Regions from separate parts of the Homo sapiens genome. Here all the other regions are linked to region 3. The links come from fine-mapping of genetic effects on gene expression. A gene starts in region 3. Each other region holds a variant in brackets. All regions are shown on one strand. Distances are between the middles of the regions. Region 1 holds the start of LOC124900257 (U8 small nucleolar RNA). Region 2 overlaps TRPA1 (transient receptor potential cation channel subfamily A member 1). Region 3 holds the start of MSC (musculin).

What was found.
Region 1: its variant is fine-mapped to the expression of MSC in whole blood (TOPMed, PIP above 0.99).
Region 2: its variant is fine-mapped to the expression of MSC in whole blood (INTERVAL, PIP 0.97).

What each region holds. Positions count from the first base shown.
Region 1 is chr8:71,813,076-71,824,548 of GRCh38, forward strand. It overlaps LOC124900257 (U8 small nucleolar RNA), which reads right to left and starts at 2,550; the gene lies at 2,419-2,550. The variant G/A (reference allele first, on the strand shown) is at 4,714.
Region 2 is chr8:72,052,476-72,057,475 of GRCh38, forward strand. It overlaps TRPA1 (transient receptor potential cation channel subfamily A member 1), which reads right to left. Exons shown (of 27, transcript NM_007332.3): 10 at 4,442-4,542; 11 at 3,211-3,380; 12 at 2,961-3,125; 13 at 1,278-1,392; 14 at 124-290. It overlaps MSC-AS1 (MSC antisense RNA 1), which reads left to right. Exons shown (of 5, transcript NR_033652.1): 5 at 64-3,837. Among named protein-coding and RNA genes, the nearest start is that of TRPA1, 21 kb to the right of the region's middle. The variant TAGAC/T (reference allele first, on the strand shown) is at 2,028.
Region 3 is chr8:71,841,171-71,849,511 of GRCh38, forward strand. It overlaps MSC (musculin), which reads right to left and starts at 3,242. Exons shown (of 2, transcript NM_005098.4): 1 at 2,475-3,242; 2 at 390-1,577. The coding sequence starts at 3,008. The coding sequence ends at 1,491. It overlaps MSC-AS1 (MSC antisense RNA 1), which reads left to right and starts at 1,953. Exons shown (of 5, transcript NR_033652.1): 1 at 1,953-2,534; 2 at 3,059-3,252. RefSeq lists an enhancer at 35-895 and silencers at 2,591-2,860, 4,700-4,749.

The DNA.
Region 1 (11,473 bases), 27 kb before region 3:
GTTCACCATCCTCACTGGGTGACAGCTCCTTTATGTCGGGCACACGTTCTATTCCTTTTGATATTTCTCATGTTAAGCATAGTACCTTATATCTAATTGCTGGGTCAAGATGCATGCTGAATGAATAAATAAAATGAGTGGCTCATTGCAAAACCTTTTTGAAGTGCAGATTGAATTTGGTTGATTTTTGCTTTAAAGGGTTGAGAAACACAGTCCACAGGAGGAGTCAACACGAATGACTCTAGGTCCAACCCCATAGCCTCGCCTCCCCTTTCCTTTCCTGCATTCACCTCGTCCCTGAACTTGGGATCACAGAGCTGATGAAAGTTCACGTCCTTAGAACTACCAAAGTAGCTGCCCTGATTGCATGGAATGTTCTCACACTTCTCTCACTTTACTCACGAAGCCCTTTTTCTTTCATGCCGGGTGTGAAATCCATACTCCCCAACAATGCTTCCCAGGACTAATGAGACAAGGGGTAAAGGAGAAATGCTAAAAGCTATAAAGTTCCAGCCTTTGAGGGGGAGCAGCAGCATGAGTGACTGGGAGTGCAGGCTCTGGAGTGAAACACTGAGCTCAGGCAAAGGTGCTGCCACTGACTTGCTGCTGTGTCATTTGGGGCAAGTGACTGAAGGTCTCTAAGCAGCAATCTTTTCAAGTGTACCCATCCCATAGGGTTGTTCTGAGAGCTCATGCCTCTAGGCTTAGGGTCTGGTACAATATAACACTCAAGGAATATTAGCTAGTACTATTAATAAGACAGAAAATAGGAAGACAAGTAGTCAAACAGAAAGGGAGGAGAAGAGTGACTTTTAAAATCTGTCTCAGGTTTCAAGCCCCCAACTTACAGTGATCTTATGAAGAAACATACCTTCGGAGTTTTGTGCATGGATACAGCCATGTCTATGAGCCTTTCTTTGAAAACTCATTGAAATTTGGGATCAGGAAGCAAAAACTATAGTCCTTCATCTATTAAACCAGGTAAAAACATACACCCTGTGATTTTTAAGGGATTTAAGGGCAACTATTCAGGTAAAACCAGCCATTTCTTGTTTTATGGAAATGGCTCATAAACACTTGGGCCATAGTCTTTGAACTGAAGCATGTCAGATATCCAGTGATTAATGTTCATAGAAATTATTAATTGCAAGACAGAGGCACTTAACAAATATTGAGTCTGAAGAATATTACTGATGATTTCTTCAGCGGTGCAAAGAGTGAGTGGGACGAGGAGAGGGCACAGCAAGCCACGGACCCATGAAGAGATAAGTGTGAAGATAAGATTGGCCAGTTTCCTTCATTGCCAATTCTTCTTTTCCTCATGACTGATATACTTCTTTACCCATTTGGCTAGATTTCCCAATAACTTCTTTGATAAGCAAATATGACATTTTCTCTTCCTTAGTGCCCCTCTGAACTAAGAGCTATGCACAAAAGCAAGGTTCTTTGGGGAGAAATCCTCTGGAGAAGGCAGTGAAGTGAAGTAGTCAAAGCATGAACATGAAGTAAGGTAGCCTGGGTTTAAATCTCAACTCTAGCACTCAGCAGTTCCAGGCTCTTGGGCCTTTTTTTTTTTTTTTCTTTTTTTTTGACAGAGTCTCGTTCTGTCACCCAGGCTGGATTGCAGTGGCGCAATCTCAGCTCACTGCAACCTCTGCCTCTCGGGTTCAAGCAATCCTCCTGCCTCAGACTTCTAAGTAAGTAACTGAGATTACAGGCGTGCCACCAGGACTGGCTAATTTTTTTGTTTGTTTGTTTGTTTTTGAGACGGAGTCTCGCTCTGTCACCCAGGCTCAAGTGCAGTGGCGCGATCTCGGCTCACTGCAAGCTCCGCCTCCCGGGTTCGCGCCATTCTCCTGTCTCAGCCTCACGAGGACCTGGGACTACAGGCGCCTGCCACCATGCCTGGCTAATTTTTTATATTTTTAGTAGAGACGGGGTTTCACCATGTTGGGCAGGTTTGTCTTGAACTTCTGACCTCAAGTGATCCACCCGCCTCGGCCTCCCAAAGTGCTGGGATTACAGACGTGAGCCACCACGCCCAGCCCTTGGCATTTAATTTAACTTCCCAGAATCTTGTTTTATTTCATTGTGAAATGTGGATAAATATTTTTCACCCCAGAAAGTTATTGTAAGAATTCAATGAAAATAACCTATGAAACAACTTCAGCATGGTTCTAGCATTCAGTAATTACTATTCTTAATTGTTATTTACCTGCTTGTATATATATTAAAACCAAGTACTTGATTCTAATTATTATTTTCATTATTTTAACTATTATGATTTTCATAATTATATATGTATGTATATTTTTAACAAAAGATTTTTAATTAACCAAAGTTACACTTGTGGATGATTCTCAATGCTCCATGATAATACACTTATTTTTAAATTTATTCTTTTCTTCTTCAGAAAGAATCAGGTAGGAGCAAACAGAATGTTGCAAATCCTGATTATGCAGAGAATTAATCACATATCATGTAAACTCTAGTCATCGTGAACTCTGCCCTCCAAAAGAAGGAACAGGTAAGGATGATCTCACCTGTGGATAATGCATCTCTTTTAAATGCTCAACAGAATGAGCAAGTCCTTCCACAGTCCATCTTTTCCTAAAACAATTTAGCCACTCTAGGGATCATTAAAGCCGCACCAACATCCTTCCAATTTGGCAATAACCAATGGGAAAATCCACCTAGTTATTCTCAGGGAGCAAACCAGTTGACCAAGTTAGAGCTGGGTCTGACTTGTCCAATGAGCAATTCACTCTTCAGCAATTCCTTTTGAAGAGAGAAAGTTATTGTGTGGAATTGCTAGAGTTGTTGTGATACACTGTGTCTCTGCCCTTTTGAAAGTAGAAGCACTGCAGGTCACTCACAAGCCACTGGGCAAATACCCAATGGCCCTTGAGAGTTATTCAGTGCCCTTGACTAGAAGAGTTGGCATTGGCTTCTGGGTATTAATCTTAGGTAAGGAGGAAAGGTATTGAGAAAATGAGAATAAAATGAAGGAAGCTTGAATTTAGCATATCTGCCTTTATAAGAATTGCTGTACATGTTTGTCTTAGCTCAGGTTGTTATAACGAAATACCACAGATTGGGTGTCTAAAACAACAGACATCTGGAGACTTGACAGTCTGAGATCAAGCATGGTCAGGTTCTAGTAAGGGCTCTCTTTCTAGTTTTCTCACACGACAGAGAGAGAGAAGGGCATAGAAGAGAAGACAGAGAGAGAGAGAGCTGTCATGTTCCTCCTTCTAAGAGCATTAAGTTCATAATGATGGCTCCACCCTCATGACCTAATCACCTCCCAAAGGCCTTAGCTCAAAATACCATCACATTGGGGATTAGGGCTTCAATATACAAATTTTGGGTGGGTAAAAGCATTTAGTCTATAGTAATATTACCCTTCCTTCCTCACTCTTCCCTAACCAGAGTGAACACTCCTGAGGACAGAGAGCATATCTGGTGCTAAGCACCTCAGAAGCAGGTGCTCAATACGTGTTCATTTAATTGTTGACTTGATTTACTACGGCACCAAAATACAACTTTTAGAGAGGACACAGGCACCTGTTTCTGCTCAGCCTTCAGAGGGGATTTTCTTTGTGAAAGTCTGCTTCTCCCAACTGAAGTCAGGAAAAAGGCATGTGAGCATTTTGTGAGATAAGAATCCATCCCAAGGAGAATGTCTCAACTGCACATAGAGTGTTTACTGGGGATAAATGAAACAAGAAAAAGAAAAGACAAATTAATGATATCTGTCTACAAAATTCACTACCAAATGATCACTTTCAACTTTTGTTCTAGAAGCACAGTATATAATATTTATGAATGGAAAATCTTTATGAAATATACGTCAATAAAGGAAAGCTTTCTTTCCCTTTTCCATATACCCCACAATTTTCCCCAATAACACAGAAGAAGTAAGCAGTGATTAAGTTGGTGCAGTTCTCATGCCCCATCAGAATTCACAGATAGAGAGCGTTGTTGCATGTTCAGTGCCAAAACTGATGTTAAGCTTGAAAGTGACATTAATGATTCTATAAGTTAACACATTCCCCCCAAGTAGAAAAAGCCAGCAGGAGAAGAGGTAGTGAATTCCAAACTTCTTTAATTTTAAATTTGCCATTCAGCTTAAAAACCAAAAATATTAATAGTAACTTTAGTGTTCTTTGTGTTTCTGTCCTGAATTGCACCCATTTCTTGCCACCAACCTGAATTTGGTGCTCTATTCCTATGCACTTTTTTTCCACTTTTGCTACATATGAGTGTATCTCCAAGCAACATATGGCATTTCTTTGCCTGTGTTTAAATTCTCTATACATAGCATTATTATGTTGTATGTTTCTGAAACTTATTCCTTGCTGCATAACAATAAAAATATATTTGCTTACAGTAAAATTACAAATTTCTGTTCCTCAAAGAATACCATTCAAAAAGGTGATGAATTGATAGAAGGGGAAAGAACAGGCATCAGAAGAGGGGAAGATATTTGTAAAACTCATACCTAATAAACGTTCCCCATCCAGAAACCAAACTCACAATTTACATCAGGTGAAAACTTGACTCTGTGGTATTCACTTCTCAGGCCTCTGTACATATGCAGCCTAGGATGTTCCTAGTGATAATGTCATTCATGCTAGACCCACAAAACTTTTACTGTCACAATACAACTGCTCAGTAACAAGGACAGATCAGAAATTGAAATTGAGTTCC[G/A]ATAGCTTGTTTGGAGACCACACAGAAAATTTATTTTCTGTGTCAAAAAATCCAACTTCACCAACCCTAGGGAGATTCAACAAGCTAGATGCAACAGAAGAAAAGAAAAAGAAACTGTGAGGTGGGGTGAGTAACTGGTGGTGACTGATGGGCTTTAAAACTAAGACTACATAGCCAAGCCCCAGAATCCTTGGTAACCATGTAACTCGAGGCAATAGGATGGCCTATTGTGGTAGGTGGAATGGGGGCCCCCAAGAAATGTTACATCCTACTCCCTGGACCTTGTACATGTGAACTTGTTTGGTAAAAAAAGTCTTCTTTGCTGATATAATTAAATTATGGATATCAAGATGAGATCATCCTAGATTATCCAGGTGGGCCTTAAATCTGATGACAAGTGTCTTACAAAAGACAGCAGCCACGTGGAGATGGAGGCAGAGAGTGGAATTGTGCAGCCAGAAGCCAGGGAATGCTTGGGGCCACCAAAAGCTGAAAGAAACAGAAGGCCCCTCCTCAAGAGCTGTCAGGAGAAGCTCGGCCCTGCTGACATTTGATTTCAGATTCTAGCCTCTAGGACTATGAGAGAGAAATAAATTTCTGTTATTTTAAGCCACCGAGTTTATAATAATTTGTAACAGTCCTAGGAAACAAATACACCTTTATTCCATCAGAGAGGCAAAGTATTTTTGTTGTCTAGGATTTCTTTTGATGAGGCAATTTCCAGTGTTTAAAATAAGCCGAGCTCCTCTGTTCTCTGTCAAATACCCAAACTGCTGCTGAACTATGGAAATCTTCTTCAAGGCACATTTTCCTTCAGCCTCCCAAACAGGGAAGCAAATTTGAGAAATTAATAGAACTTCACACCCAGTGGGTAGATATCCCAAAGTTAATTTAATTGGGGCCCACGACGAAAGAAATTTAAAGGCCATTTTAATTTTGCTAGTTTAACATGAACATATGTGCAAAGCTACAAAATTGAGATAAGATGCAACAACGGTACGAGGAGAGATTAAAGAGATTGACAGTGAAATGTGTGAAGAACAATTAAATTAAGTCAATAAAAATGGAAAATAATGTGCTTGTCAACCCAAAAATCCTGGGCTGCATTAGTAAGAATGTAATAAACAGAGCAAAGGAGGCAGTAGGCAGGGTCTGTTGTACCTGATGCTGTTGCTCCTTGAGAATGGCATCTGCAAATTTGAGCACATCCAAGGGAGGGCAACTAGGACTCTAGAGAGTGAGTGTAATGATGAATAAAGATCAGATGAAAGACTTGATGGTTCTCAGCTTGGAAAATATCCGTAGGATGAATGTGATGGTGTCTTCATGCCTTCAAATGATCATCATAGGGATTACATTGGGCTCTGGCAAGGAATGCTGAGCCTGCAAAAGGGACTAACTAGAAGTGGCCAGGGCAGGAGGAAGAAATCAAGAAGGTGCCATCAGGCAAGCCAAGGGACAGTTCCAAGCCTGGGCCTGGCAGTGTGAGTGGAGAAAACACCCATAGCAACCTGTGAACTGGCAGTCCCCACAGCAGTACAAACTGAGATGCAAGGAGGGAGAAACAGGGTTTTTGTAGAAAGGGAGAAATCCTTGAAGACCCACATTTACACTCTGTGCTTTGTCTCATATCAATACAGTCTTAATTTTAGCTAATGACCAGTCAACTGGAAAATAACCCAATGCACCTGGCTTGTGCCATCACTCAGTGGTTTCTAAATGTTCACCTCCTGCCGCCCACCTGTGATGGCCATTAGGGAGAAAAACTGAAGCCACAATAGTCATCACATCGCCCCTACATTTTTTCCTGAATGTTAGAATGCACTTTATTTTTTGAAATTATGATGATAGTAGTTTGAAACTAATTATTTTAAATGTCTAATTTGGCAAAACAAAAATAATTGAAATCACCAATATCATTTGTAATATTTTTGGAATTTTCTTCTGGGAAATCAAAAAGTCTGGAAACCATGGCTCCAGATTACACCAAAAGGAAACATAAGATTAAAACTGTATTCAAAAACAAAAACCTCAAAATTCTTGTCAAAGAGCCCTTTTCCTAAGAAATAAGCAAGGAAGAAAACATGGGGTCTGGGCTGTTTAGATGTTACTTATAGTTTGAAAACTTCCAAAAATTCATGTGCACATTTTTGTTAATATAGGATTCAGAGTTGTGTGTCTGTGTACCTATGTATGTATGTATATAGCTGATGGTGGGACAATGAAGCAATTAAAATCTGTACATCGTAATAACAACCATAGTATTATACAAACAGTTTCCCCAAATTACTACAGTTCTTTCTCATGGACACACCTACATTCCTGTGATAACACTATGGCCACAAGAGGGCAATATACATTCAGGTTACTAATGCCTGTCAAGAGTTTTGCCTCAAATCAGATTAAGTCAACTAGTCTTTGCTGTTCTTTGCTCCAAGGGCAAGAAAACATGTTAAAAATATTGTCTTTGTGAGGGGTGGAGCCAAGATGGCCGAATAGGAACAGCTCCAGTCTACAGCTCCCAGCATGAGAGACACAGAAGACGGGTGATTTCTGCATTTCCAACTGAGGTACTGGGTTCATCTCACTGGGGAGTGTTGGAGAGTGGGTGCAGGACAGTGGGTGCAGTGCACCGAGCATGAGCCAAAGCAGAGAGAAGCATCACCTCACCCGGGAAGCACAATGGGTTAAGGAATTCCCTTTCCTACTCAAAGAAAGGGGTGACAGAGGGCACCTGGAAAATTGGGTCACTCCCACCCTAATACTGCGCTTTTCCAATGGTCTTAGCAAACGGCACACCAGGAGATTATATCCTGCACCTGGCTCAGAGGGTCCTACACCCACAGAGCCTCTCTGATTGCTGGCACAGCAGTCTGAGATCAAACTACAAGGCGTCAGCGAGGCTGGAGGAGGGGCGCCCACCATTGCCGAGGCTTGAGTAGGTAAACAAAGCGGCTGGGAAGCTCGAACTGGGTGGAGCCCACCGCAGCTCAAGGAGGCCTGCTTGCCTCTCTAGACTCCACCTTTGGGGGCAGGGCATAACCATACAAAAGGCAGCAGAATCCTCTGCAGACTTAAATGTCCCTGTCTGACAGCTTTGAAGAGAGTAGTGGTTATCCCAGCACACAGCTGGAGATCTGAGAGTGGACAGACTGCCTCCTCAAGTGGGTCCCTGACCCCCGAGTAGCCTAACTGGGAGGCACCCCCCAGTAGGGGCTGACTGACACCTCACATGGCCAGGTACTCCTCTGAGACAAAACTTCCAGAGGAAAGATTAGGCAGCAACATTTGCTGTTCACCAATATCCCCTGTTCTGCAGCCTCTGCTGCTGATACCCAGGCAAACAGGGTCTGGAGTGGACCTCCAGCAAATACCAACAGACCTGCAGCTGAGGGTCCTGACTGTTAGAAGGAAAACTAGCAAGCAGAAAGGACATCCACACCAAAACCCCATCTGTACATCACCATCATCAAAGACCAAAGGTAGATAAAAACCACAAAGATGGGGAAAAAACAGAGCAGAAAAACTGGAAACTCTAAAATTCAGAGCACCTCCTCTCCTCCAAAGGAACACAGCTCCTCACCAGCAACAGAACAAAGCTGGATGGAGAATGACTTTAATGAGTTGAGAGAAGAAGGCTTCAGACGATCAAACTACTCCAAGCTAAAGGAGGATGTTCGAACCCATGGCAAAGAAGTTAAAAACCTTGAAAAAAATTAGACGAATGGCTAACTAGAATAACCAATGCAGAGAATTCCTTAAAGGACCTGATGGAGCTGAAAACCAAGGCACGAGAACTACGTGACGAATGCACAAGCCTCAGTAGCCAATTCGATCAACTCGAAGAAAGGGTATCAGTGATGGAAGATCAAATGAATGACATGAAACGAGAAGAGAACTTTAGAGAAAAAAGAATAAAAAGAAACGAAAAAAGCCTCCAAGAAATATGGGACTATGTGAAAAGACCAAATCTACGTCTGATTGGTGTACCTGAAAGTGATGAGGAGAATGGAACCAAGTTGGAAAACACTCTGCAGGATATTACCCAGGAGAACTTCCCCAATCTAGCAAGGCAGGCCAACATTCAAATTCAGGAAATACAGAGAACGCCACAAAGATACTCCTTGAGAAGAGCAACTCCAAGACACATAATTGTCAAATTCACCAAAGTTGAAATGAAGAAAAAATTATTAAGGGCAGCCAGAGAGAAAGGTTGGGTTACCCACAAAGGGAAGCCCATCAGACTAACAGCGGATCTCTCGGCAGAAACTCTACAAGCCAGAAGAGAGTAGGGGCCAATATTCAACATTCTTAAAGAAAAGAATTTTCAACCCAGAATTTCATAACCAGCCAAACTAAGCTTCATAAGTGAAGGAGAAATAAAATCCTTTACAGACAAGCAAATGCTGAGAGATTTTGTCACCACCAGGCCTGCCCTACAAGAGCTCCTGAAGGAAGCACTAAACATGGAAAGGAACAACCGGTACCAGCCGCTGCAAAAACATGCCAAATTGTAAAGGCCATTGAGGCTAGGAAGAAACTGCATCAACTAACGAACAAACTAACCAGCTAACATCATAATGACAGGATCAAATTCACACATAACAACATTAACCTTGAATGTAAATGGGCTAAATGCTCCAATTAAAAGACACAGACTGGCAAATTGGGTAAAGAGTCAAGACCCATCAGTGGGCTGTATTCAGGAAACCCATGCCATGTGCAGAGACACAAATAGGCTCAAAATAAAGGGATGGAGGAAGATCTACCAAGAAATGGAAAACAAAAAAAGGCAGGGGTTGCAATCCTAGTCTGTGATAAAACAGACTTTAAACCAACAAAGATCAAAAGAGACAAAGAAGGCCATTACATAATGGTAAAGGGATCAATTCAACAAGAAGAGCTAACTATCCTAAATACATATGCGCCCAATACAGGAGCACCCAGATTCATAAAGCAAGTCCTTATAGAACTACAAAGAGACTTAGACTCCCACACAATAATAATGGGAGACTTTAACACCCCACTGTCAACATTAGACAGATCAACGACACAGAAAGTTAACAAGGATATCCAGGAATTGAACTCAGCTGCACCAAGTGGACCTAATAGACATCTACAGAACTCTCCACCCCAAATCAACAGAATATACATTCTTCTCAAAACCACACCACACCTATTCCAAAATTGTCCACAGAGTTGGAAGTAAAGCACTCCTCAGCAAATGTAAAAGAACAGAAATTATAACAAACTGTTTCACAGACCGCAGTGCAGTCAAACTAGAACTCAGTATTCAGAAACTCACTCAAAACCGCTCAACTACATGAAACTGAACAACCTGCTCCTGAATGACTACTGGGTACATAACAAAATGAAGGCAGAAATAAAGATGTTCTTTGAAATCAACGAGAACAAAGACACAACATACCAGAGTCTTTGGGACACATTTAAAGCAGTGTGTAGAGGGAAATTTATAGCTCTAAATGCCCACAAGAGAAAGCAGGAAAGATCTAAAATTGACACCCTAACATCACAATTAAAAGAACTAGAGAAGCAAGAGCAAACACATTCAAAAGCTAGCAGAAGGCAAGAAATAACTAAGATCAGAGCAGAACTGAAGGAAATAGACACACAAAAAACCCTTCAAAAAATCAGTGAACCCTGGAGCTGGTTTTTTGAAAAGATCAACAAAATTGATAGACCGCTAGCAAGGCTAATAAAGAAGAAAAGAGAGAAGAATCAAATAGATGCAATAAAAAATGATAAAGGGGATATGACCACCGATCCCACAGAAATACAAACTACCATCAGAGAATACTATAAACACCTCTATGCAAATAAACTAGAAAATCTAGAAGAAATGGATAAATTCCTCGACACATACACCCTCCCAAGACTAAACCAGGAAGAAGTTGAATCTCTGAATAGACCAATAACAGACTCTGAAAATGAGGCAATCATTAATAGCTTACCAACCAAAAAAAGTCCAGGACCAGATGGATTCACAGCCGAATTCTACCAGAGGTACAAGGAGGAGCTGGTACCATTTCTTCTGAAACTATTCCAATCAATAGAAAAAGAGGGAATCCTCCCTAACTCATTTTATGAGGCCAGCATGATCCTGATACCAAAGCCTGGCAGAGACACAACCAAAAAAGAGAATTTTAGACCAATATCCCTGATGAGCATCGATGCAAAAATCCTCAATAAAATACTGGCAAACCAAATCCAGCGGCACATCAAAAAGCTTATCCACCATGATCAAGTGGGCTTCATCCCTGGGATGCAAGGCTGGTTCAACCTACGCAAATCAGTAAATGTAATCCAGCCTATAAACAGAACCAACGTCAAAAACCACATGATTATCTCAATAGATGCAGAAAAGGCCTTTGACAAAATTCAACAACACTTCATGGTACAAACTCTCAATAAATTAGGTATTGATAGGATGTATCTCAAAATAATAAGAGCTATCTATGACAAACCCACAGCCAATATCATACTGAATGGGCAAAAACTGGAAGCATTCCCTTTGAAAACTGGCACAAGAAAGGGATGCCCTCTCTCACCACTCCTATTCAACATAGTGTTGGAAGTTCTGGCCAGGGCAATCAGGCAGAAGAAGGAAATAAAGGGTATTCAATTAGGAAAAGTGGAAGTCAAATTGTCCCTATTTGCAGATGACATGATTGTATATCTAGAAAACCCTATCGTCTCAGCCCAAAATCTCCTTAAGCTGATAGGCAACTTCAGCAAAGTC
Region 2 (5,000 bases), 210 kb after region 3:
AACTGATATTTTAAATTTTGATTAATGGCTGAAAATCATTTCTTTTCTCTTATTTTGTCTCAGACTTCAAATCATCCCAACACCAGAGAACACTAAATGACAGTGGACAGGAAGACAGTGTACCTTTTGCTCCTGATGATCGTAAGAACAACCTCCTTCCTCTTATTGTGAAGTGCAAGGTGCAAAAAGGAGGCCTGCTGCTTGTTCAGGACTATGTCAGCATTGTGGCTCAGAAGAAGCGCAACGGCTTTGGCGTGGCCTTCCCTTGCAGCAAAGTGAAGTGCAGTGTTCTTTTGAAGAAAAACAGACACAGAAAACGTGGTGACAGTGTCTAATCTGTCTTATTTCACTGCTTAACTGCTTAAAAGACATTAGCGACACTATTTAATACCAAAATACATAGCACTTAAAACTGGTGTTCAGAATCAAGCTTCAAAATAATGAGTTTATAGTTCTAGCATGGTGTGTGTGCATGTGTGGGAAGTGGATCTGTGTGTGTGTGTGTGTGTGTGTGTGTGTGAGAGATAGAGAAAGAGAGAGAGAGAGAGAGAGAGAGAGAGAGAGAGAGAATGAATTCCAAGGCATTTGTTTTGTGTTGCTTTTGCAATGGGATGATTCCACAAGGACAAAGGACAAGCTTTCAGGGTAAAGATGTTGGGTTGAACACAGAAGAAAATCCTCCTGAGATTGATCATTTGTAGAACAGTGGCTTACAGATTTGGGGCTTCACAAGCTTGTAAATGTTTTTTAAAATCAGAGACTGTTATAAGTTTGCCCATTTTTAGTTTCTCCACTTAAAGACTTTTTTTTTTTGAAAAAGGCAACAACAGTCTTCTATCCCCATCATTTTATGAACAAACGTACATTTCAAAAGTTACTCTCCCCAAAGGAAGGAAAGACATAATAGCACAATAAAGGGCAGCATTTCAAATCAATACACTTCAAAATAACACTTATCTTAATGAAAACTCACCCCTGCCTTCATTTCTCTGGACCTACCAGGGAGTAAACGCTTTACCATCAAATTTCATTGGCCTGTGGACCTCGCTGCTCTGTGAGACTGGAGGTTTCCCCAACATTCACCCACCCCTTGGTATTCTCCCAATTCTGTTGCCTTTTGATTCATACTTCACCTCAAGAATCCACTTGCTAAACACCCAACAAAAGGCTGGGAATAGAGCAAGGAAGGTAAAAGGTGTCTAGGAGAGTTTTCTGGCAATGTTGGAAGTTTCTGCTATATTGAGATTTTGGGTAAGCATGAGGACCGCAGTACATACCCCGTCTTCATCCAGGCGATCTGTGCACTTCAAATTAGTATCAAGAATGACCTTCATGGTCTGAGTGTACCCGCCCATGGACGCATGATGCAAAGCTGTCCAGCCATTGTGGTCACTGGTAAAGAGTTAAGAAAAGATGTGTGCATACACTTAACAGATGAAATGCGGGATGGGATGCCACTTGGCTTATTCTAGGTAAATCTGATGACAACAAAAAGCATTATTGAGATCTGGCAACTAAATATTTATAAAACATTTATAATAAATGAGCTAATTCCAAGCTCAATGATCTTAAATGACCTATTTCTAATGTGATTCATACACGTTTTTTACTTAGTGGTTTAAAATATGAAAGTATATAAACACATTACCAAACACTTTGGGGTAGGAGAAGTACGCTTAGCATGTCTGTGTCATACCTAATTTTTTTAAAGCTATAATGAACTGATACACATCAATTTAAATCTTGTTTTATTCTTTCAATGAACACTGTATCAAAATTTTTTTATGAAGTAATGTTAGTCTTTGTGGTCAATAGTTATTGGTAATACTACTAGTAATATGATACATGGCTATAAGATGCTTAGCTTAGTGTCAGTTATTATTCTAAGAGTTTAAATCTAAAAAGCTTCCCTCTTGTGCTCTGAAAAATGCTTACTCAATTGCTTTGAAAAATGTTTATCCTTTTCCACAGAAATTCAAGATGTAAATACAACAAAGCCTTGTCATATTAGCTATCTTTTTTCAAAT[TAGAC/T]AGAAAAAAATTCTTGACACTATTTAATTTCAGTGCTAGTGAGCAGATGTTTTAGGGTGCAAGAGCCATGTTGCTATTTCAGTTATGATGTAATTAAGCAACAACTGTCTGGCCTGGGTCTACTTCGGTCCCCTTTGCAGGTCAGTTGCTTGGTGTTTCTTTGTAAACCAGAAAAAACTGAGCAAAACATTCATTCATGTAGCTGTAGCACCAATTTGCTGGCATCAATATTATGGTAAGGAAATGTGTTTTTGAACATTAGCCTAATAAGCTCTTTGCTACTGCTATGGTAAGATATCAAATGAAAAACCTCTGTAAAACATTTCCAGGTTTTTTCTTTCTTATCACAATATCATTTAATTATGCCACATATTTTATTATACTTACATATTTTAACTTTGTTTCTTGTACTTGAGTTCATTTAAGTATAATAAAATTCAGAAATTTTTACCATCTCCTGTTGTCACTTAAAGGGAACTTTTTATGCCTACCATTCATCAGATTGAATGAAAAGTAGAGTATTTGAACTTGTATGTTTTGTGTGTGTGTGTACGTGCATACACACATACACAACCACAGTTTTGTATCTATATAGGAATATGGCAGCATGATGAGGTAAAATATGAGAAACTATGTTTCAAAGAAAGGTTCTGAGAAAGACTGCACAAAGCCAATTATTCTGTGAACAGAATATTCTTGAACAAGGTTCTTCAACGCTATAAACTTCAAAGTCTTTGTCAGTTGGAAATAATACTGACTTCCCTTTCAGTATTTTTAGAAGTTACATATGTTTTGATGAAAAAATAAATTGGATAAAAGTACTTAGTGAGATATAAAGTTAGACCTCATAATTAAAAATATAATGAAAAGATAGCCTGAAAATGGCTAATTAAAGAAATTATATAAACACTCCAATCATATATCCTCACCTGAGAAACAATGCACCTTTTTTCAGAAGAAGCTGAACTACTTTATCATGTCCATTCTTTGCTGCCAGATGGAGAGGAGTCATTCCATGAAGGTCACCTTCATTCAGAAGCCTCGTATCACTTATGTCTTGTAGGAGCCTCTGACAGGTATTGATACGCCCATAACTTGGAAAAAATTAGGTTTCATATTTTCAAGGCAAATATTAAACAGAAAGAAGACATGTTCATACATTGCTAGACTGACCCTTACCTGGCTGCAAAATGCAGAGGTGATTTCTTATCTTTGCTTTTGGAATGAATGGACACATTAAAGCCAAGTAGGTTATTTACAGAACCAGGGCCCCCCTGTCTACATGCATAATGTAGAGGAGTACACCCATCGTTGTCTTCATCCATTACCAGCTCTTTGATCTGTTGCATCTATAGGAAAAAATTAATATCATACAAATAACTCTGCTATTATGCTAATATGATGGTTTTCAAACTATTCTGTAGGAAAATATTTTCCAACAAGGGTCAATATGTATTCCTTGGGGCCAAAATTGTAAATAACCTAAAGGATTTGAGAGTAATATAAATATGAATGAAGTTGAATGCTCTGTCTTCATTTAGTGTACATTACCATATTAGTGTACATTACTGTATTAAAGGATCTGAGAGATCATGCCAATAGGAAAATGTACTTAACATTTTTAACTCAGCATTTTTCAAATATATTTGATCATGGCCCTTCCCTCTGCCCCTCCTCTTATTTCCTCCCACCCCCAAATAACACCCAACAGCTTCATGTTAATATGTTCTGTTAGGTAAAATGGATGGGATGTAAACATTAGGTTTATTTTATGTTTTATATGTATAGTAAATAAAAAATGAATGATAAATGAGAAGCTTAAGCCTATCAATTAATATTTTGTTATTTTTTAAATATTCAAACACATATATATTTTGATTATTAAATACTGGCAATATTGAAATCTATTGATGATAAAAATATGATGTATTTCACATACATGTGCTAGTCACTCAGTAAGTATTAGCTGGTGAATATAAATATAAAAATAATGCTTTCAACCTCTCCTCAGAAAGTCAAGTATGCTGAGTAATTTTTCTTAATTGATGGTGGAGTATTGATAATTCATTCTTATATTTGGCTTTTCCACTGATATGCAAATCATAATGGTCAAAGAATGAAGAAAATCAAACTAATTAAGGATGTTATCTTTATCATAGATGACTGCATATTAAGTTTCTTTGTAAGTTAAAAAACTCAGTCTCACTACAATTAATTATCATTGTCATAATCATCACCACCACCACCATCACCATGTTGTAACTAAATAGTCAAATATGTCATCTTTATTTTAAAACATTTTTAAAATTCCAGAATCAGTTTATATAATAACAAAAATTATAATAAACAAAATTAGTTTATTTTCTGTTGAACCCAACTCAGTTAATGGCAATCCACAGATATACATTACCTGCATAAATTCAGGTCGCAGATTTTTTAATCCATAAGGTTGCTGTACAGTTAAATGCAGAAAATTACGTCCAAAATTATCTTTTATGTCTACTTGGGCACCTAAAAAAAAACACTATGTAAATATAAATTCTATTCATTTATTTAAAGCAATGTTTACGTGGATTTTCAACTTAGCAAAAAAAAATTTGACTAAAAATATTGTCGACCTTTAGTTTACAGGAAATTGTGTTTAGATGAGAAAACTAAACATATTTAAAATCAGGTTTAACTTACTCTCTGTGTGTGTGTGTGTCTGTATGTGTAAGTGGGGTAGAAAATATGTGATGCATTACATAAATACATGAAGCCTTACCTTTTAAAGCATAAAATGTAAGTATAGACACATTAGAGATCAAGAAAGAAGAAGATAGCAGAGAAGGACACCTCGCTCCTTTGTTATCAGAGGCCCAGGTTAGAATCTAAAACAGGGAAAGTTATAGTACCTACACCACACAGGACTGATACATTGAAAGACAGTTAATTAAATGTTCAGCAAATGCCTGGGATATAACAATTGC
Region 3 (8,341 bases):
GCAATGGTAAGGATTGGAGTGTGCTTTTAGCTGGAGTAGCTGCTGTGTGTGTTGTGTGTGTGTGTGTGTGTGTGTATGAGAGACGTGCACCTATGTTAGCCTGAGGAGTGTATGTCTGTCAGGACAGCAGGGGCCTCAAGACTCAGGACTTTTATTAGGCCTCCAGTTATGGCCTTCCAGGAAGCCCGGCGCGGAGAAGCAGCAGAATCATAGAGATTAATAAAGAATGACGTTTGGAAATGGAGTGATCCAAAAGTGATCGCCACCATTCCTCCCGCAATGACCCACCGCCCTGACCAGAGGAGATCAGCCCTTAAAAGTTAACTTCTACAGCCAAACCCTCTTAGTAAAGGGCAACAAAGACCACATCCTGACACCTCCAAGGGGCACACGGTTTTTACAGCGCGTTTTATTATTCATAAAAAAATAAATTTATTTACATATGTTATTTCCTGTGGTAGTGCAGCCTCGGGGCAAGGGCGCGTTCCCTATCGCAGGATCACTTGCTATGGTAAGCCGCCCACCCTGCGCGCTCCTCCGCGCGGGGAAGAACCTGCGCGGCAGGACGTGGTGTTGGAGTTGGGGCGCCCGGAGCGTGGAGTGGGGAGACCTGATGCAGAGAGTCTGGAGTCGGAGCTGGGGGTGCTGCAGGTAGGAGCAGGAGCGGGGCGGAGAGGGAGGCCCGAAGAAGACCCCACACAGGTTGGCGCAGCGGGGCTTGGGGAGGCTTCAGCCCAGAAGTGGAGAGGGTTGACAGACGCCTGCCTGATTAGAAAAAGCCGGGAGCTTGGGAAGGAGACGGGATTGAAGAAGCCACCCGGCAGGGAGGCCGAACGGCCCAGAGCTCTCCGGGTAAAACCCGCCTGCGGTGATCTGGGAAGTGTGTCTCCACCTAGCCCTGCGAGCAGCGGCCTTCCTCCCGCCCGTTAGAAGGGCGCTGTGCTGGAGTACGAACCCGGCCCAGAGAAGCCACTCGCCCTTCTTTGTCACTTAAAACCCTGTCCCGACGCGGATCTCACGTCTAGACCTCTGTCTTTAAAGCGGATGTAGAGCGCGTTCTAACCGTTCCCTAACCATTGTGTCACCGCGAAAGGCCGGGGCTGTGTGGAACCGTCCCGCACGTGTGCGATGAATCTGGCTCCGCTGAGAACGGATCCGTGGGCTGTCTGGCGCGGGCTGGGGCAGCAGCCGAGAGTTAGTCTACAGAGCTAGGGCCCGAGGGTGGACCTGCGTCCGCGTCTCGTCACGAAAGGAAGCTCTTTTTGGAGAGGCAAAACGTGGTCGCCCAGATCCGGCGCAGCTGTAGCCGTGGGCGCTGTGCAGTGACAGCCACACCCGCCACCTGTCACGATCACAGTTCCAGGGAAAGGGGAAGGGTCAAGGAGAATCCAGCGGAAACTTCTTCCCATCTCACGAGCTCTCCCTTCTCTCCGTGGCCCCCAAACACTCGCATTTAACGAATAATCCCATCAAGTGAGTTCCAGTCCGATTTAAGCGGTGGTTCCACATAGTCTGTTGGCTGCGGAAACTTCTTTGGTGTCAGAGTCCGGTCTTCCCGAGACCACGAATGGCCATGTCTGTAAATCAAAAAGAACGTGAGATATTAGAGAGAAACGATTGTCTCAAACCGAAACAGCTCTCCTACGCGAACCCCAGATATTCCTGACTTGGAGTAGCTAAGATTTTATCAGCATTCTGGGAATTTGCATGTCCTCTCTCTGAACTAAGATTTTCATTTTACTGGAGGTTGATAATCCGAGACTTGCCATATCCGTTCACGCTTCTTCCTGGACTTTGCCCGCAGGATAATTTGGTGAAACTCATCTGACTTTGAGGTTCTGTCGTTTAGTTCCCTTCCCCAACACACACACACACACACGCACACACACACACACACACACACACACACACAGTCATCCACTCCAAGCTCCAAGTAGGAACTGGGCTTGGACAGGATTTTTCCCAAGCCGGGAGAGCTGGCAGATCAGAGAGGGACTTTCCAGATAAATCCCATCTGGGGAAACGTTACTATCTTCCACAAGCAATTTTTCTAAAAATGCAAATGCTCTTTTATAGAGCTCGGCCTTCCCTCCTTTAAGAAAGGGCTTGCCGATTCAAACCTGCCCGACTCAGCTGGATTAAGTTGGGCAAGGGAGATTTGCCGTCAGTCTGCAACCTGGTGGCAGATGGAGATGGAACCAAGATTTACCCTGGAAGTAGGATATTAGTCAATGGCTGTCACTGGGGTACAATGTTCAGAACGATGCAAACAGACACGGAGGGTTGATTCTTCTTCAGGGAAATGGCTGGCCACTCCCTTGATTTGGGAGAAACTAAACTGGCCTTCTCGTTCCCAGTCCCAGAACCTCCACCCCTTTCGAATTCTTCCCAACGGGCTGACCCTGCCCGGCGCCCAGGAGCGCCCTGGGTATCTCCTGGCTGCTCTCCCGAATCCTTGCGCGCCGCGCCCCTACCAGGTTCACTGGGTGCACGTAGCCGTTCTCATAGCGGTCCTCCTGCAACAGCTGCCGCAGGTGAGCGATGTAACTGGAAGCCAGCCGGAGCGTGTCCAGCTTGGAGAGCTTAGTGTCGGGGGGCACCCAGGGCAGGCTGGTCTTGAGCCTGGAGAAGGCTTTGCTCAGCACGCGCATCCGGGCACGCTCACGGGCGTTGGCCGCGTTCCGCTGCGACTGCTTGCACTCTGCGGCTGAGCCCTTGGCCGGGAGGGGCTTCTTGCCACCACCGCCCGCGCTACCACCTGCGCCGCCGCCCCCAGCCACACGGGGCCGCTTCCTCTTGCAGCCTTCCGCGCTGCCGGCTGTGCCCAGAGCGCAGCGCTCCTCCTCGCCGTCGGGGTCCTCCTCCTCTGCCGACGAGTTGTCACTGGGCGAGGCGTAGCTGCGCTCTACGCCGCGGAGGGGCGGCCTCTTGGAGGCGGGGACCGGGTACTCCCGCTGCAGCCCCCGAAGCTCCATCTCCTCCGGATCACTCACCGAGCCCGTGGACATCCCGTTGTCCCCCTTGCCCACACGCGTCCTCTTTCCTCCCCCCTGGCCAGTCTCGCTGTCTCCGCCTTCCGCTCCCTGGCGGAGGCGGAGGCCAGAGAGCGCTCCAAGGAAGACTAAAAACCCAGGCCGGGAAGCGCGGGGTGAGAAAGCGAGGTGGGTGGCGAGAGCGTGAGCGCCCCTCTGCTGACCCCGGGGAGCGTGGACTACGAGTTGGCGCCCAAGTCCAGAATCCGCGCGCACCGCGGTAAGCTGCGCCTTTTGAAAAGGCTATCTGTACTCCTTGGAACAAACCACCCCGGGCAAAGAAGAGGGGGTTGTAAAGGGGGCCAAGAGGTGGGGCAGGGGCGTGGAAGGGGTGGGGACCGCTTTTCTGCATGCCGAAGAGCGGTTGGTGGAGGCGGGGGAAGGGGACGTCTCTGCAGAGCCGAGATTTGGGCTCTGAAGCCCGACGGCCCTTCAACATGTCTGCGCAGGATAAGTGAGCTTTCGGGGAGTGAAGGGGCACATCTTGTTCCTACCGACGGTGCTTCTACCCCCAGGTAATCTTAGCAGTGGCAAAGATTACCAGACACTTAGAAACGACGGGATTCCGACCTCTGCTTGCCTGCCAGTCTTTCCAGTAGAACTCAGTTTTCAAGTTAACCATTCATGATGTATGATTGTCTACCCAAGCCTTGCTGGACAAGAGAAAAAGCAGAACAGGCAAACAACATCCAACAATGCACAAGTTACCTCTCATTTTCCTCCTCCTTTTCTTATAATATACCTTCATGGTTTACAAAAATGGTTACAATGGTTCGTTGCCTTTTCAAATAACATCTGTAACTTAATGATATTATCTCCAATTTGCAGAACTTGAAGCTGAGCCGCCTAGATAGACGTTAAGTAAAAGACCCAAACTTATTAGGCTAAGTAGAAAAAAAGATTCAAAATCCGCGTTTTGAAATTCTGGCCCGTCGGTATTCTAGTCAGCTCCGTGCCTCCGGGTCACACATCACTGGATGTTGTAGCTGGTATTTTCCACTATCTTGAGAGTTCCATGCGTGATGTGATTTTGTTTTAATACCACAATGCGTGTGTTGGAGGATCCGGCCCTAAAGCTTTGCATTATAATGTAGGGAATCCTTGCTATTGTATTTAATAGATTGTGTATTGAAGAGCGAGCTCCTGGAAGCAGAATGCTAAGTTAGCACAATCGTCCATTCAAAGTAAAAACGACAAAGGAGCACCCTGAATGATCATGTTCCATTCCAAACAAGACTAAAACATCCTGCTCTTCCACACAAGAAAACACAACAATTTTGCAGTCTCATTATTTCCTAACTCGAAGGTCATCGCAGTTCCTGGTCAGGGGATAAGTACGTCTGTGGATACGGGCCCCAGTGGTCAGAGACTGAGTGCCCGCTGTGTGCCCGTCACTGTACTCGCGGCTTGTGAGCAGCTCACTGAGTAATAAAACCCGTATGAGTTTGGCATATGGTTACCCCATTTTACAATGATGAAACTGAGTCGTCACACAGGCTTAGGTGTTCACTTGTTCTTTTCCTGAAAGTCCACAGGCTCCCAAGCTGAGCAAGGTGCAAGGGGACCTATGTGGAGTCAGTCCAGGACAGAGCTGGCAGAGATAGCTGGGCCAGCCTGGCTCCCGCCAGTTCGTACAGCAGAACAAATGCGTCCAGCTCGATGGCTGAAGTGCTGCAACAGGTGGCTGGCAGAGGCTGACTTCATCACTCAGGCATCATTCCACCTTAGTCTCCCAGGCCACGCTACCCTTAGCAGGGGCGTTTTGGGGCCGGGGGAATGTTTCACATAACCCCTCCGGCTCACCCACATTTGCAAAGGTTTTCTCCCTGTACAAGTTGTCTTTTGGTTGGGGGCAGGGGGTGGGCTGGTTCTGGGACAATGTGAATAAAAAGATCATTTGCCCTCAGCTCTCTCTAGGGTAGGGAAATGCAGGGAATATTTGACAGAGTGTAGAAATCTTTCCTGGAGCGTTTGAACTTGAACTTGACTCTAGGATCGCCTTGCCAGGTGAAGGAGAGGAGAGCGACAAAGAGGGGCAAAGAGATGGACCGAGGAGAGCCAGGCTAGCTCTCTGCAACGACTATTGATGACTTGAAGCTATCAGTATAAATATATAGTCTCACACATTAGGGGCAGGCGAATAGGTTTTTAAAATCTGAATTGTTTATACAGGTGCAGAACAAAGTCTTTCTTTAGAAAAGATTAATGGTGAGGAGAGCGCTAGATTTCTCTAAACAGTCACAAAAACTATACCCAGCCTCAACGCTGAGGAGGTCATGGCCAGTTTCTTTATTTCTTGAAGAAATGGTCTGACCCCACCAGTTCGGGCTTATTTTTCACAGCACTCGCCTTTCCCTCCCTGTCTTCTTTCTCTGTCTTCCCCTCCCTCCCTACTTCCCTCCCTTTCTCTTCTACTCCATCTCCTCACCCTCCCTCTGTTCGCTTTCAAGAAAGTCAGCTATTTTATTTTGTTTGTTTCATCATCTTTCATTTAACCTCCATTTCTTTCATTTTTGTGAAATTAAGTTATATTTTCACTTGTAACTCTGTTTTCAAGTTGCAGACTGGTAATGAAGGTTAGGAAATGTACCTTATATGCATTTTTTATAAGCATATAACTGCAGTTTGCTTTAACATGTTTGTAATATCTGGCATTTGGTCACCTCCTTCCACTTTCAAAGTGCTATTACTTTTTCTTCTCCTTGGATGATTACAACAGCTTCTCGAGCTGAACAGTGTAAGTATAACTCTCTCTTTTGAAAGCCCAGTGTTTTTCATGGTTTTGACAAGTGACATACTGAAATGAATAATACAGCCTTTATTTTTATCTTATAAACACACTGAAATCAATTCCTATTTGCTTATGCTTTACAAACTCTTAGATGTGAAACAGGTATAGACTGTTTGTGTGTACATCAATGGTCTTGAAATTCTTTAGTGACATTTAAAAAATATTCAATGGGGTGAGTAGGGCTTAAGTTGCATTATAAAACAAAATATTTAATAATTCTTTTAATATTACCTTTAATATTTCTTCATCCTGGCTTCCGTGCTTGCTGGATATATGACTTCTGGAATTTGCATTTTTTGAGCCCTAGTTTTCTAATCTATAAAATGGATTATCTCTCTGAGCGGAAGAGAAAGTATATGAGCAGTTGGCTAGGTCAGAGCCTGGTACATGGGAGAAGATCAGTAAATGCTAGTTAGTATTATGAATTGCCTTGCCCAATATCACACAGCTAGTAAAAGTTAGGGCAATGACCTGACCCAAGTTTTGTACTCCAGGGCCTATTCTGGGTTTCAGATAGTACCAGGGTCTTTCATTTGCTTTGACTACAGGCTGCTAGGGTCTGAAGTACATGGTCTCATCACATGACATTTTTCACAGGTCCCATGAGGGACTTCACTGAGGGAAAAATGGATGGGACGTCGTTAGAAATTTTCTTTTCGTCCCCCAAATTCTCTCACCCTAAAATTGCAGTGCTTTTCCAAGCCTTACTTTCCCTACTGGCATAAAGGATTAAGCCAGAAATCCTGCTGGTGGTGTGGTGTAGGTCAAAGGAGCATGCCCAGGTGGAACACAGATCAGTGCCTAACAGATTGAAACATTTAACAATGCAGGCTTGGTTTGTTTTTTAAAAAGGGAGCCATGAGATGGGATGATAATTACACATCATAGAAAAAAGGCCATTTGTTGCCACTTCCTTCCTCCAACAGCATATTAAGTAATGGGTGAGAAACTCTAGAACTGGGTAGGTCATGTGGACTTAGGACTCAGGAAGAGCAAAGGCTTCCTCTGTCCTCTGTGAAGGCCATGCCAAAACTATGTAGTGAGTAGGTACTTAAGAAACAGCAGTGGGACCAACCCACAGCCTCCTGTTGCCTGGAGGAATTGCCATACCTTCGGCCAATTGCCTATACTTTTGATCTAGGAAAATGAATAATCTAGATCAGCACTGGCCAATATGGAAGCCATTAGCCACATTAGGCTATTGAGCACTTGAAATGTGGCTATTCAGGTACTATAGTGTAAAATGCATAACCAGTATTGAAAACTTACTATGAATAAAAGAATATAAAAGCTCTCATTAATATTTTAAAATATAAATTTATGTCAATCTGTGAGGACATTTTGGATCTATTAGGTTAAATGAAATATATTACAAAAATTAATTTCACCATTTAAAATTATTATCATATGGTTACTAAAAATGTAGAATTAAATATACCGGTCCCATTATATTTCTATTGGACAACTCAGGGATTAATCTCATGGATTAACTATACCCCTATGGACTGAGTATCTACTGTTGGTTGTGGCAAGGTGTTGGTGAGACCCACTCTCACCCACTGGGAGGGCACATTCTTGTGGAAATAAGCTTCTCTGTATTATCCAGACTGCGTCTTACCACGTGTATTCAACCTCCTGTCTATAACACACCCCACCAGACACACACACGTGCTGGGAAAATGAACGCTCCTCCTCAGTGGTGTGTTAGTCACATGGAATGCTAGTCCCAGTGTGTGTTGGCCACGTGGCATGCTAGTCACATGGGGAGCCAGTCAGGTGGGGACAGGTCACGTGTAAGACCCAGGGTTAGGTCTGGATAACCCAAGGCCTGTCCCTTGTCTGCACAAAGCCTTGGGCTCTGCTCCAGGCTCAGGGCAGCCTCTGTCCTGGTGTTGTGCAGGATGCCACCACTCTTCAGACCAGGAAAGGAAGAAAACTCCCTTCACCCGGGCTCTACCAGCCATCAGGTTGGGCATCCATGGAAATAGTCAAAGCCTACATGTGGAGTCCTTTGTCATCCACAACACAAACAGGCCTCTGCTGCTGGTTTATTTATCTAAGGATTGCAGCAAGATTTTTTACCCTTCCCTCCGAAAGTCATGAGGCCTTAGCATGGAGAAGCCAGTGCCTGGATGGTTTGTGGAGGTTGAAGGTGGAAAAGCCAGGCTTAACAAATAAACAATGAAAAATGGGGCTGGGGGTAGGCTGGGGAGAGGGAAAGCGATAAGACTCAGCCTTTCAGGAGAAAAGAAAAACGCCCTCATTGATTGTCTTGACAACAAAAACTGTAGGCAGCTTCTGCAGGAAATTTTTTTTAAACAATATCTCTAGATTTTAGGGAGCAGGTGCTGAGGCTTAACTGTCCTGGGAACCCCAAGTTCCAACTGGAATGCTGTGTGTTTCCTGTAAATGACTTTGATTACTCAATTGGCCTAGTATAGAAGCCCAGCTTTCAGAAAGTGAAGGTGCTGTAGTGAAGTCTTCTGTAGGAGGCCTGTTTACATAATCCGTGGCCCTC